Linked DNA regions of Homo sapiens. The protein of the gene in region 4 purifies or fractionates together with the protein of the main gene of each other region. This does not show direct contact. Each region holds a gene or a part of one and is shown on either strand. Other genes may lie near its edges.

What was found. The genes of interacting proteins can lie anywhere in the genome.
Region 1: the proteins of ASPH (region 4) and FAM162A purify together in Homo sapiens (co-immunoprecipitation; 3 studies listed by BioGRID and IntAct, with this or other methods). This does not show direct contact.
Region 2: the proteins of ASPH (region 4) and ACAD9 purify together in Homo sapiens (co-immunoprecipitation; 3 studies listed by BioGRID and IntAct, with this or other methods). This does not show direct contact.
Region 3: the proteins of ASPH (region 4) and EXD2 purify together in Homo sapiens (co-immunoprecipitation; 3 studies listed by BioGRID and IntAct, with this or other methods). This does not show direct contact.

Annotation. Positions count from the first base shown.
Region 1 is NC_000003.12:122,404,682-122,408,181, forward strand, and holds part of FAM162A (protein FAM162A), read left to right. Parts: intron 1-2,599; coding exon 2,600-2,708; intron 2,709-3,500. UniProt on the Homo sapiens protein: Proposed to be involved in regulation of apoptosis; the exact mechanism may differ between cell types/tissues.
Region 2 is NC_000003.12:128,910,620-128,913,614, reverse strand, and holds the end of ACAD9 (complex I assembly factor ACAD9, mitochondrial), read right to left. Parts: intron 2,875-2,995; coding exon 2,802-2,874; intron 1,109-2,801; coding exon 1,008-1,108; 3' UTR 501-1,007; downstream 1-500. UniProt on the Homo sapiens protein: As part of the MCIA complex, primarily participates in the assembly of the mitochondrial complex I and therefore plays a role in oxidative phosphorylation.
Region 3 is NC_000014.9:69,197,998-69,201,497, forward strand, and holds part of EXD2 (exonuclease 3'-5' domain-containing protein 2), read left to right. Parts: intron 1-3,500. UniProt on the Homo sapiens protein: Exonuclease that has both 3'-5' exoribonuclease and exodeoxyribonuclease activities, depending on the divalent metal cation used as cofactor.
Region 4 is NC_000008.11:61,519,093-61,522,592, reverse strand, and holds part of ASPH (aspartyl/asparaginyl beta-hydroxylase), read left to right. Parts: intron 1-3,500.

The sequences.
Region 1 (3,500 bases), on a different chromosome or scaffold from region 4:
AGTACCATTGACAATGACTGTATTCCCCCAAATCCACTTAAGTACTCAACCTTAGGTGTAAAAGTATTTAATTGCAATATTCTGGAATTCAGGAAAGAGTGCTTCCTGTCACCAACTTCCTTAAACCTAAGGGAAGGGATCTTGGCTGGGATCATGGAACTTTTTCAGAGTTTGTAGATGATGAGTGCAGGTTCCTCCAACCCAGTTTCTCAACTCAGTACTATTGATATTTGGGGCTTGATAATGCTTTGTGGCAGGGGGGTGTCCTATTTGTTGGAAGATGTTTGGCAGCATCCCCGGCTTCTGCCCCCTACATGCCCGTAGCATTGCGGCAGTGCTGACAACCAGAAATGTCTCCAGACACTGCCAAATGTCCAAGGGGCACGAGCGGGGTGGGAATCTCCCCTGGTTGAGAACCAGTGCCCTAGCCTCATGTTAAAGACCCTGACTGGCTGGCATCTTGGCTAAAAAGAGATTCTGAGAAATAGATGTCATCTCCTCTGTGAGGCATCATCCTATTCAGGGACAGGGACTTCAGACAAAGCTCGTGGAAGTTCCCTGTCAGCAAGAAACTATTCCTGGATCTTCTGGTCTCTGGTTTCAAGTCATGATTGAAAAAGATCTGAGCTCATTCAGGATTTCTTTCCCAGGGAAATATGTAGTATTTACTTTCTGTTTACAACAGCTTTAATAGAGCTTTTCTGCTTCTGCCAGTCAAATTGATAGCACATTACTTTAACTAGAATTATTTCAGCAGGAAAGCCCTGGTTTTTCTTAGCTCAAGTCATGTATTCTTCTGGGAAATAAGAGAATACTGGAAATAACAGTGACATCAGGTTCTTGCCTATGCCCTAATTCTTCCTATACCAGCAGAAAATAAGCTGGTAGACACCCATGGCCTTAACAGATGCTGTATAGGCTTTGCTATAGAACACCTTCCTCAGTCTGCCTAATAGTTGGTTCCAAGATCCCCTCAGGCCCAAAATACTACCTCACGAATCACTCTGGAAGGGTCTTTTCTGGGCCTGGGCAGCCATTTGTCCTTGTGCTGGTAGTTCTGAACAGGCACTGCTTAACTTGCCCATTCCTATTACTCCCTATGGAATGGATTACTTTTCATGAGGATCATGGCACTTCAAATCCCATAAAATACCGTCAACATGGGAAGTCAGTTTGTGGTTAGTGGAATCTCAGGTGCTCCTAACTGACCAATTTGACAGTCCTTAGCAGTTGTCTTGGGTTCCTGCCAGCCTGCAGGCCCAGCTTAAGTGCCTGGAGAACCCCGTCCACATGCTGCCTCACAGGTCCCAGCTCCTACATCACATTGTACATGGCTTCATCATCTTCCTCCTTCCACCTGCAACATCCCAGACTCTTTGCCTCCTTCCAAGCATTTTTAAAGTACTCCCCTCCCCAATTTTAAAAGTAATATATGTTAAATATCTCAGGGGAAAGAAAGCACTTCAATCCCATCATCTAGAGATAATCACTTCCTATTTACACATCTACTGAGAAGGCCATAAGTTAATCCTGGGCCCCATAAGGGCTCCACATCCCCTGCCTTGAGGTTCTGCCAGACACCGAGGTAACAGAATCGTGACCACCAGGTGTGGCAATGCATGCCTATAGCCCCGGCTGCTCAGGAGGCTGAGGCAGGAGGATCGCTTCAGTCTAAGATTTTGAGTCAGCAACATGGTGAGACCCCATCTCTTTAAATAAAGTAAATTAAAAATAGAACCATGACTCACTGCCTACTTGCAAAATCACCAAGGTAGATTGGCCTTTAGACTCTTCTATATTAAGCCTCTTAGGTTTCACACAAGAATGATGAACCAACCATCAACTTTTTTTTAAGGCACATGGGTCTGTATTCAGTAGATAGGTTAGAAGAGCTGCACTTTGGCACTTGCCAAAGACCACAATATCAAGTTCACTGTCACTCAATTTTAGCAAAACATTTGTTTAAAAAGATAAATATTGAGGAGCATTGCTTAAAGGATCTTCCTACTATTTTAGATATTCTCAAATCTATTCTGGGTTCAAGACAGAGAGCAAAAAGCTGGGTATATGGAGCACATTGGTTAACTTTCTCCAATGTTTGATCATTCTGAATTGTGCTTTGTGTTGAAACATATGAAGCTTATTGTAGTATCTGTTGTCGAGATGTTTTCAGACGATGACTACATCACATAATGTCTTCTTAAGAACCTCAGGGAGAAATGACTGTTTCACTTCTAGCATTTATAGGCTGCTTGGAAACCTGAGAGCCAAAATTGGGGTCCACCATAGCAAGTGTAGATTAATATGCCTTGCCCATTTTTTTTTTTTGGCTTTGTTCTTGACTTCTCTTTTTGTTTTCTTCTTTTGTACTTAATTGTGTGCTATCCTGTATTTTATACATAAATGAGTTACGAAAAATGCCTCATCCTCCCCAAAGTCCTATGAGATCTCTAGGCCCTTTTTAAAGAGATCTCTAGGTCTCCCTATTTATATTTATAGACACTACTACATTTTGAATTTATACACAGCCTTTTATCCTGAGCAACTTCAGAAAGGGAAAAGTTAATAACTTTCTCTCATGATCTCATTGTATTACTAGGTTGGAGATGCTTGATGCTGCAAAGAACAAGATGCGAGTGAAGATCAGCTATCTAATGATTGCCCTGACGGTGGTAGGATGCATCTTCATGGTTATTGAGGGCAAGAAGGTGAGAAGGGGTTTCTTCTCTATCCAGTATGTATGTTCTCCACCAAGAACCTAGAGTAAATCAGGGATTGACCCTTGTATTTACCCTCTGAGAAGAGGAGGCTACTTTCTACATTACATGAGAAAAGATAAGCAAAAAAATAAGACATATTGGGAACAAGCCTGGAATATCATCCTTGGGGATAGATAGCAAATCCTAACTTTGGCGTGGTGAAGAAGGACTAGATTCATTTTGTGTAATGTAAATTTAAAAAGTGTTTCTGATGACAGGTGTCATAATGTAAATTAAGAAATAGGACACTGGCATATTTAATCACCCACTGCATATTTCCAGAGTGCTCTTGGTACCCAAGTGTATTTACCCTCACCATAACTGCCTTCAGCATGGTGAGCTTTCTTAGCGGGGTTCTTTATTTGAAGCTCAGCCAGACAGGGCCATGTGTCTAAGGACCACAGCTCCTAAGCAGTACATAGGAATACAAGTCCAGAAATCTTTAGCACAGATTATAATTAATAGCTATCACTAATTGAACACTCACTGCATTCCAGGTACTTTTCTAGCTGGTATCTCATCTGAACCTCACAAAAACACTGTAAGATAAGTATTATTAGGACCTGATTTATAGATGAGGAAAACTATAGCTTAGAAAGCTTTAGTAACTTGCCCAAGGCCACATATCTCCTTAATGACGAGCCACAGTGTGAACCTAGACCCAATTCAGGTAATAGGAAAATTCCTCCCATTTATTGAGTGCTTATTATGTAACAGGCACTGTTAAGCTCACTTAATCAC
Region 2 (2,995 bases), on a different chromosome or scaffold from region 4:
ACTTGGAGGAAAAAGAGTCGGCTGCCTTCTCTGTGCTCAAGGGAGTGTCCACAATAGGCATTTTAGAGCTCCAGACCACCCAAGGACCACATCAAAGCTTAAAGTTCACCACAGTGAGCACGCTGGGACCTGGTGTAATCTTTCAAGTGCCAGCAGAAGGGAGGCTGGAGAAATGCAAAGGCCTGCTGGCCTGGAGATACCATTCATCCTCTCCTCAAGAGTAGAAGCCAGTTCTTGTAAAGAAACTAAAGTCCCTAGGTGGGAACATCATCAGCTGAGACAGCCTCCCCATCATCTCCTGAGAAGGATAAAAACTAAGGGCTCATAACCCCAAGGGATTGTGGCCTGCACTGTGTGTCTGCTCCTTAGCATTCTGGGCCCTCCTTGCAGGGTGAGGACAAAGGGGACCCGAGGCCATCACCAAAGGGTGGTTCTCAGGGTCCTGCTGTCACCCATTAAAGGCTGGTTCTAAGGAACAGTGTGACAAGTACAGCAAAGGCTAACAGTACACAGATTGTGACATTTTATATTCTTTGTTAAATGGTTCCTGGTACATGTTTTAAGTGCCTCTGCTTCTAGTTTAAATGAATGACCCAGACAGAGCTTTCAAGCTGTTTCTTAGAGAATGTGTGGTTGAGCAGAAATGGCTATCCACACCTGACACAGGTCCCCACCCACCTCACACCCTGGAGGCAGCAGCATAAGCCCCAGTTTCCACTATGGTGTCTCCTCAATGACCAGAATACCCGCCAGTTCCAGGGGTCAGCAATTCCATTCTCTCTCTCCGGCTCAGTTCAGAAGCTGTGATGGTCCTGTTAGAGAGCACTGCCTGCAGGTCAAAACCTGGAAGAGGCTCTCCCAGGCCAGGCGACAACCCTTCAGGTGCAGACGGGGAACAAAAGGCTTAACCTGTGATAATCCCAACACCTTCTGAAAAAAGAGTAACAGTCATCCAGCAACGGGCCATGGGTAGGGGCGGGCGGTAGCAGGGGACACTGTCCCCTGCCTCAGCATGTCCTGTCCAGAGGGTGGGCACAGATATAGGCTCGCTTCTCAAGGATCTGCTGGGACACTTTCTTAATCTGCTCATCTAGGTTTTCTGGAGCATCTGGGAAGGAAAAGGAGAGATGGTGGGTGATCTTTCTGCACCGTGATAAGACAAACATGGCTGAAGTGGGGGCATTTTTCCACAAAGTCAGCCCACCCACCATGAAGCAGCCCTAAGGGTGAACCCCTCCTCCAGACCCCCAGCAAGTGATTCAGGGCTGCAGGGAGAGAAAGGGGTACAGCTTCATTCTCAGTTACAAAGGACTCATCCTGCTCATCTCTAACCCCCAGATCTCATGGGGTGGAGCCGGCACTTGCTCCGTAAACAGCCCATCTGTGATTCCAGCCCACTGGAGGAGAAACCATTTCAGCACCCTCCACAGCACATAACCTGTCAGCACTGGGGGGGTGTCTGGGCTACCCCCAGGGCTAGGACCTGCAAAAAATCATATGCCACTCTCAGCAAGTGCCACAGTGCTGGCGCCTACACCCATCACTTGGCAACACGACTGGGCTTTGTGGGGACACTGATCCAGAACCTCAGGTCAACAGGACTGTGAGGGTCAGAGGTAGACTGAGCTGGGCATTCCTAGATATGGTCGAGTGGCTATAGAAGAGGAAGAGCACTGCAGACAGAGCGGGGAGCACGAGCAAAGCCCTCTGTTCTCTAGGCCAAGGCCTGAGACCTCTGCAGGGCACTGCAGGGTCATTTTGGATGGAGTACAGTGGGTAAAGGGGCAGGTAAAATGCTGTCTCCAGAATCAGGTACAACCAGATGCTCCTCCCTTCGTGAGCCTTCCCCGGGCAGCTTCAAGAATACAGCCAGGGCTGGGCACAGTGGCTCATGCCTGTAATCCCAGCACTTTGGGAGGCCAAGGTGGGCGGATCACCTGAGGTCAGGGGTTGGAGACCAGCTTGGCCAACATGGTGAAACCCTGTTTGTTTCTACTAAAAATACAAATATTAGCTGGGCATGGTGGTGCGTGCCTATAATCCCAACTACTCAGGAGGCTGAGGCACAGGAGTTGCTTGAACCCAGGAGGTGGAGGTTGCAGTGAGCCAAGATCATGCCACTGCACTCCAGCCAGCCTGGGTGACAAAGTGAGACTATGTCTCCAAAAAAAAGAGAATACAGCCAGGCATGCTGGGCAGATGCCAGGGGTCCTGCGCAAAGGGCTCTGCACTTGCTCAATCTAAAATTGCCTTGGCAGGCCCGGTGCGGTGGCTCATGCCTGTAATCCCAGCATTTTTGGAGGCTGAGGCAGGCAGATCACCTGAGGTCAGGAGTTGGAGACCAGCCTGGCTAACATGGTGAAACCCTGTTTCTACTAAAAATACAAAAAATTAGCCGGGCGTGGTGGCGTGCGCCTGTAATCCCAGCTACTCGGGAGGCTGGGGCAGAAGAATCGCTTGAACCCAAGAGGTGGAGTTTGCAGGGAGCCAAGACTGCGCCATTACACTCCAGCTTGGGCAACAAGAGCGAAACTCCATCTCGAAATAAATACATACATACATACATACACACACACACATATATACATACAACTGCCTTGGTGAATGGGGCAGGTATGCACCTACAGTGCCTGGTGGGCACTGCTGCAGCTAAGCCCAGGCCTACCCAGGCCCTCGCTCAAGGCAGAGGTCTGTGAGTAGCTAGCAGGCTCTGGGAGCTTGACAGGGTCCAGAAACAGCTCACCATCAATAGGGGCCTAGAAGTGGGCCCTTCCTTCCCTCCCCCAAGACATGCCACTCACACTTGTCCAGCTGAGAGAGGCTGAAGAGATTCTGCAAGTAAGCTTCCACGCAGAAGGTGTTGGCCAAGAGAACCTGCCAGAACCGAGGACAGAAAAGATATGCCCAAATTCCTGGAATCAGACCTCTGAGCTTCAAAAACCCAGCCTATCAGCCAAACTGGGTAGCATGGCAGGGGTCACAAGGCCTGGCACAG
Region 3 (3,500 bases), on a different chromosome or scaffold from region 4:
CATCTCCACTCTTCTGGTCTTCTTCTAGATCTTCACTAAAGTTTTCTGTTCCTCTTTGTATTGATCTGACACATTTCTTGTTGAATTCTTTCCTAGACTTGTGTATGTGATTATGTGGTTTTTTTATGTAGTTTTAAAATAGTATACAGGTATATTGCTATTATGAATGAGATTTCTTTTTTCACATTTTTATAATAGGTTTGGAAAGCTATTGATTTTATACTCATCAGACTTTCTGAATTACCATATAATTTCTAAAAGTTGGTTGATGACTTTGTTGTTTTTCCAGGTGGTTGTGATGCAGTCATTCTGTTCAGGAGCTGTGGTTCTTTTTCATTCTACATTCCTCTGCCATAATTCGAGTATTCTTTGCCTCTCCGCTCTGCTTTATGAGCTTCTAACAGGTCTCTCTGCCTACGGCCTTGCTCTCCTCCAGGCTAGCACCCACATTAGTACCATGGTGGTCTCATCCTGTCACTCTCCTTATAAGTCTGTTATTTGCTCTCCAGTGTCCTGTAGGATAATGATGGCCCCTCATGACTTGTCCTGTATCTACTCATTCCAGCATCATCTCTATTTCCTTACTTGCACATTATATTTTAGCACAGTAGTGTCCATTAGAAGTAGAATGTGAGCCCCAATTTAAAATTTTCTAGTAGCCACATTAAAGATATAAAAAGAAACAAGGTGAACTGTAGTAATGGCATCACTTAATGAGGATCTGTTCTGTGAAATGTGTCATTTTGTGAACACGATAGAGCACACTTACACGAACCTAGATGGAATAGCTGACTACACACCTAGGCTGTATGGTATAGCTTATTACTCCTAGGCTATAGACCTATATGGCATGTTATTGTACTGAGTCCTGTAGGCAGTTGTAACACAGTGGTAAGTATTTGTGTATCTAAACATACCTAAACATAAAAGTACAGTAAAAATGTGGTATAAAAGCTAAACAGTGGGCCGGGCATGGAGGCTCACGCCTATAATCCCAGTACTTTGGGAGGCTGAGGCGGGCAGATCACCTGAGGTCAGGAGTTCGAGACCAGCCTGGCCAACATGGTGAAACCCCGTCTCTACTAAAAATTTAAAAAATAGTCTTGTGTGGTGGCACACGCCTGTAGCCCCGGCTACTCAGGAGGCTGAGGCAGGAGAATCGCTTGAACTTGGGAGGCAGAGTTTGCAGTGAGCCGAGATCACGCCACTGCACACCAGCCTGGGCAACAGAGTGAGACTCCGTCTCAAGAAAAGATAAATAGTGTTACACTTATGTAGGGTATCTACCATGCATGGAGCTTGCAGGACTGGAAGTTGCTCTGGGTGAACCTGTGAGTGAGTGGTGGGTGAATGTGAAGGCTTAGGACGTGACTGTACACTACTTTAGATCTTATAAACACGTGTGTATTTAGGCTACACTCAAATTATTTAAAATTTTTTTGGAATAATAAGTTAACCTTAGTTTACTATAACTTTTTTATTTTATAAACTTTTTAATTGTTTTAACTTTTTGACTTGTAATAACACTCAGCTTAAGACACAAATATGTTGTACAGCTGTATAAAAATGTTTATCTCTTTATAAGCTCTTTTCAACTTAAAATTTTTTTTTTTTTACCTTTTTAAACTTTTTTGTTAAAAACTAAGACACAAACACATACATTCATGTTAGCTTAGACATACACAGAGTCAGGATCATCAATATCACTGTCTTCCACCTCCACATCTTGTCCCACTGGAAAGTCTTCAGGGGCAATAACAGGCATGGAGCTGTATCTATGATAACAATGCCTTCTGGAATAACTTCGGAAGGAGCTGCCTGAGGTTGCTTTACAGTTAATTTTTTTTATAAGTAGAAGGAGTACACCGTAAAATAAAAAATATGGTAAATAAATAAACCAGTAACATAGTCGTTTATTGTCGTTATCAGGTATGTGCTATACATAATTGCATGTGCTATACTTTTATACGACTGGCTGTGCTGTAGGTTCGTTAACTCCAGCATAATTACACACATTTGTGAGTAACGCATTGTGCAGCAACGTTAGGACGGTTAGGATGGCTATGATGTCACTAGGCAATAGGAATTTTTCTGCACCATTGTAATCTTATAATTTTGTAGAACTATTGTATGTGTCATCTGTTGTTGACCGAAACATTGTTATACAGCACATGACTATATTGAACCCAGTATATTCCAAGCATTATTTCAACATAAATATTAAAAAATCAATATGGAATTCATAGTGATAGAAGGTATAATAGGGCTTATCAGGGGTTAGAAGAGAATGGGAATTCTTGTTGAATTACAGTTTCTATTTGCAAGGATGAAGTTGTTCTGGAAATGGGTGATGGTGATGGTTGCACAGCAGTGTGAATGTACTTATTGTCATTGAATTGTACACTTAAAAATGGCTAAAATGGGCCAGGCGTGGTGGCTCAGGCCTGTAATCCCAGCACTTTGGGAGGCCGAGTCTAGGGGATCGCTTGAGCTCACGAATCTGAGACCAGCCCGGGCAACATTGTGAAACCCCATCTCTACAAAAATAATACAAAAAAAAAATTACCCAGGCATCGTGGGGACTACCTGTAGTCCCAGCTACTTGGGAGGCTAAGATGGGAGGATGGCTTGAGCTCAGGAGGTGGAGGTTGCAGTGAGCCAAGATCGCGCCACTGCACTCCAGCCTTTGCGATAGAGCCAGACCTTGTCTCCAAAAAAAAAAAGGCTAAAATGGTAAATGTTATGTTATATATATTTTACCACGATAAAGAAGTCACCATAAAAATCAGTATGAGGCCAGGCGTGGTGGCTCACGCCTGTAATCTCAGCACTTTGGGAGGCCGAGGTGGGTGGATCACCTGAGGTCAGGAGTTCGAGACCAGCCTGGCCAACATGGTAAAACCCCGTGTCTACTAAAAATACAAAAATTAACCGGGTGTGGTGGCGGGCATCTGTAGTCCTAGCTACTTGGGAGGCTGAGGCAGGAGAATTGCTTGAACTCGGGAGGCAGAAGTTGCAGTGAGCTGAGATCGTGCCATTGCACTCCAGCCGGAGTGACAAGAGCAAAACTCCATCTCAAAAAAAAAAAATCAGTATGGAAATTATAAAAAGTTTACATCCTTTTTTTGTAGTAAGTATTCAAAAATTTGGTGTATATTTTACATGTATAATACATCTTACGTTGGTTTTTTTTGTTTGTTTTTGTTTTTGTGATGGAGTCTTACTCTGTCCCCCAGGCTGGAGTGCAGTGTTATGATCTCAGCTCACTGCAACCTCCGCCTCCTGGGTTCAAGTGATTCTCATGTCTCAGCCTCCTGAGTAACTGGGACTACAAGCACATGCCACAATGCCTGGCTAATTTTTGAATTTTTATTAAAGATGGGGTTTCACCATGCTGACTAGGCCGGTCTCAAACTCCTGATCTCAGGTGATCCTCCCACCTTGGCCTCCCAAACTACTGGGATTACAGGCATGAGCCACTGTGCCCACCTACATTTTAC
Region 4 (3,500 bases):
GAGAACAGGATGGGGAAAACCACCCCCATGATTCAGTTATCTCCACCTGGTCCCTCCCATGACACATGGGGATTATGGGAACTATAATTCAAGATGAGATTTGGGTGGGGATGCAGCCAAACCATATCACTAGGGATGAGAAAATGACGTGTGAGGACACAAGAAGAAGGTGGCCACCTAGGAGCCAAGAAAAGAGGCCTCAGGAGAAACCAAGCCTGGCCACACCTTAATTTTGGACTTTCAGCCTCCAGAACTGTGAGAAAATACACTTCTGTTGTTTAAGCCACTCAGTCTGTGGTATTTGCTTGTGGCAGCCCTAGCGAACTGATACAGTATCCAAGTAGTTTCATTAGGACTGAACTATGTTTTTTTAAAGGACTGGCTTTTTAGAGTTGAAGGAAAAAACCAGAATCAGCAAATATAAATAATGATTTTGTTCCCCAAAAATAACTTTTTAAATTGTTATGTGAATATTATGGAACGTCTATTTTGCTCTTATCTTAATAAGTGCCACCAACAGTGATTAAAATATGCCACACATGTGCAGTCATTTTTTTCTTCCAGAGCCCATGGGAAAGGTGCTAACTGACCCCAACAGCCTTTCTGAATAAGCTGAGGCTGAACCTCTAAGTCCTTCTCAACGCAGTGTTCTAGGTGGCTGCTAGCAACTGATCAGAATTGTCATGCAAGATGGAACCTGTTGTTGCCCCAGAAGCAGAGCCTTGAAATTTATAAAAGATACAACCCAGGATATCAGTTCCATGAATAGCCCTCACAAAGTATATTCATGTGTAAGAAGTGATAAATTTAAATGATTCTTCCAGATTTGCATTGGCTGTTAGATCTCTTTCTAGAGCTATTTTCCCAAAGAAGCAAGGTTTATTACTTCTTGAGGGTTAGTTTAACGCTGGTGAGAAATAATCAAACGACAACAAAGCCACAGTGAGTTGCAGATGCTGGGCATTCCTCTTCAGGCTGAGTTAACTGGTTTGCTCCTGCACAGCTGCCTTCTAACTTACAATGCAACAAAATGAGAAATTATGCTTTAAAGCATAGGCTTTGGAAACCAACAATCCTAGGTTAGAGTCCTGGATGCACCGCTTGTTAGCTGTGTGATGTGTGCATGTCCCTGAATCTCTGAGCTTCAAATCCCTCATCTGAAAAATGGCAAATAGTGCCTCAAGTATGGGGTTGTTACTAGGATCAGTGAGCACTAGATGAAAGACTTGGCACAGTTATCCAATATATGATAGTAATATTATATTTTTATGGTCTAACAATAGCACATGATGTAATAACAGTAGTGGAGAGGTGGTCTCTGGTCTGGTTAAGAGCATGAACACTGGGTCCAGTCTGGCTGAATTGAAATTCCTGCTCTGCTGTTCGCTATGTGACCCCTCTGTGGCTCAATTGCCTTTCTATAAAATACAACACTAATTGAGCCTTCTTATGACATGTTGTAGACATCAAATGAGGCACTCTCATCATGCAGAGTGGTTCCTGGCCTGTCGTGAGCATCAAGGAACTGCCGTTGCATTCCTTGGACCCTCATGATCAGACGTGAAGAGTTAAAATGACCAGTGACAGTGCATGAATGCCCAGAGTCTACTGCACAGAGAATCTGGGTTTACAGACCAGAAAGATAAATGTGTCTAAAGAGCTAGAGGTGTTCTCTAATTCCTTGAAAATCTCAGGGACACAACCCATTTGGTTACCCATTCATCACCTGTCATTCAGGTAAGGCACATCTGTTCTCCAGGTAGCACATGCTCAGCCACCTGGTGCTTGTGAGAACTCCAGGCCACCTATGGTTGTTCCCCAAGCCACCAGTTTCACTTAACTGCTGCCTGGACAGCACAGAGCTCAGAATTGGGGACTCCTGCCAAGCAGCCCCAGGCCCTGCATACCAGAAGACTTGGAAAGCCCAGGCTCAAAAACACTTTACGGTGACTCGTAGGTTTATGTAATATTCACCCAAACTGACATTTATTGTTCATTTGGGGAACTCCATTAATAACTAAAAATAGCAATTAACATTTTATTCAATTAAGAGCCAAAAAGGTTACTTAGAAAAAGCTAAGTTGTTTTCTAAAACATTGAGCTCCATTTGATTGGGGTGAATACCTTTTAGTTGCGTTTTTTGTAACTCTTATTTTATTCTCAGTATGTGATTATCTTAGGACACAATTAACATTAATTAAATAAAATTAAACTCAGCTTTAGATGTAGCAGTCTCTTTTAGGAATCTTGAATAGGGAATTAAAATGTCTCTGACTTTTAAAAATCCCATTGTTTTACTCCCCCGTTAGAGCAGATGACATTGTGTACATTCTGAGCACATCTTCCCTAATAAGCAGGGGCTTTATAGAGTGTAAAGAAATTTGCATAGTTCAGGATACTTAAATGACATGTCCCAGAATCTGTGCTCTTGACAGTTAATCATAGAATATGTCCCCTCTCAAAGACGCCTTCTTCATTTAAATCCTATTCTTTATCATCATATAAAGGATGATCTGGATATGGAAAAGACATTGAAGTCCAATAAAAATAGTGTTTTGGCAACTAATATAGTCCTAGAAATGCATTTCTAAGTTAGAAATATAATATAAGCTATTTTCCTTCTTTAGGGGATGTATTAGTTTCCTGTGGCTGGTGTAACAAATTACCACAAAACTTAATAGCTTAAAACACAGACACATTTATTATCTTATAGTTCTAGAGGTCAGAAGTCTACAATAGATCACACTGAGCTAAAATACAAGTGTCACCAGGGCTGTATTCCCTCTGGAGTCTCCAGCTTCTAGAGGCTGCCCACATTCCCCGGCTTGTGGCCCCCTTCCATCTTCAGAGCCAGCAGTGGCCAGTCAAGTCTTTCTCATACTGTATCACTCTGACACTTACTCATCTGCCTCCTCCCACATTTAAGGATGCTGTGATTACCTTGGGCCCATCCAGGTAATCTTGGATAATCTCCCTATTTTAATGTGAGCTGATAAGAAATCTCAGTGCCACTTACAGCCTTAATTCCCTCTTGCATGAAAGACAACATATTCACAGGTTATGGGATGAGGGTATGGACATCTTTTGGGAGCTAACTATTATTTTTCCTGTCACAGGGGAAAAAATAAGTACAGTTGGCCTTTGAACAACGTGAATTTGAATGTTATGGGTCCGCTTATGTAAGAATTTTTGTCAATATATTGGAAATTTTTTTGAGATTTGTGGCAATCTGAAAAAAATTTGCAGATGAACCTTATAGCCTGGAAATATTTTTTAAAATTAAGAAAAATTAGGTATGTCATGAATGCATGAAATATATATAGGTACTAATCTATTGTATCATTTACTATATATATACAAATCTATTATAAAGAAATAAAATTTATCAACATATGCATGGAAGCACTTACAGACCATACATAGCACCATTCATAGTCAAGAGAAATGTAAACAAACATGAAGATGCAGTGTTAAATCATAACTCCATTAAATTAACTGTA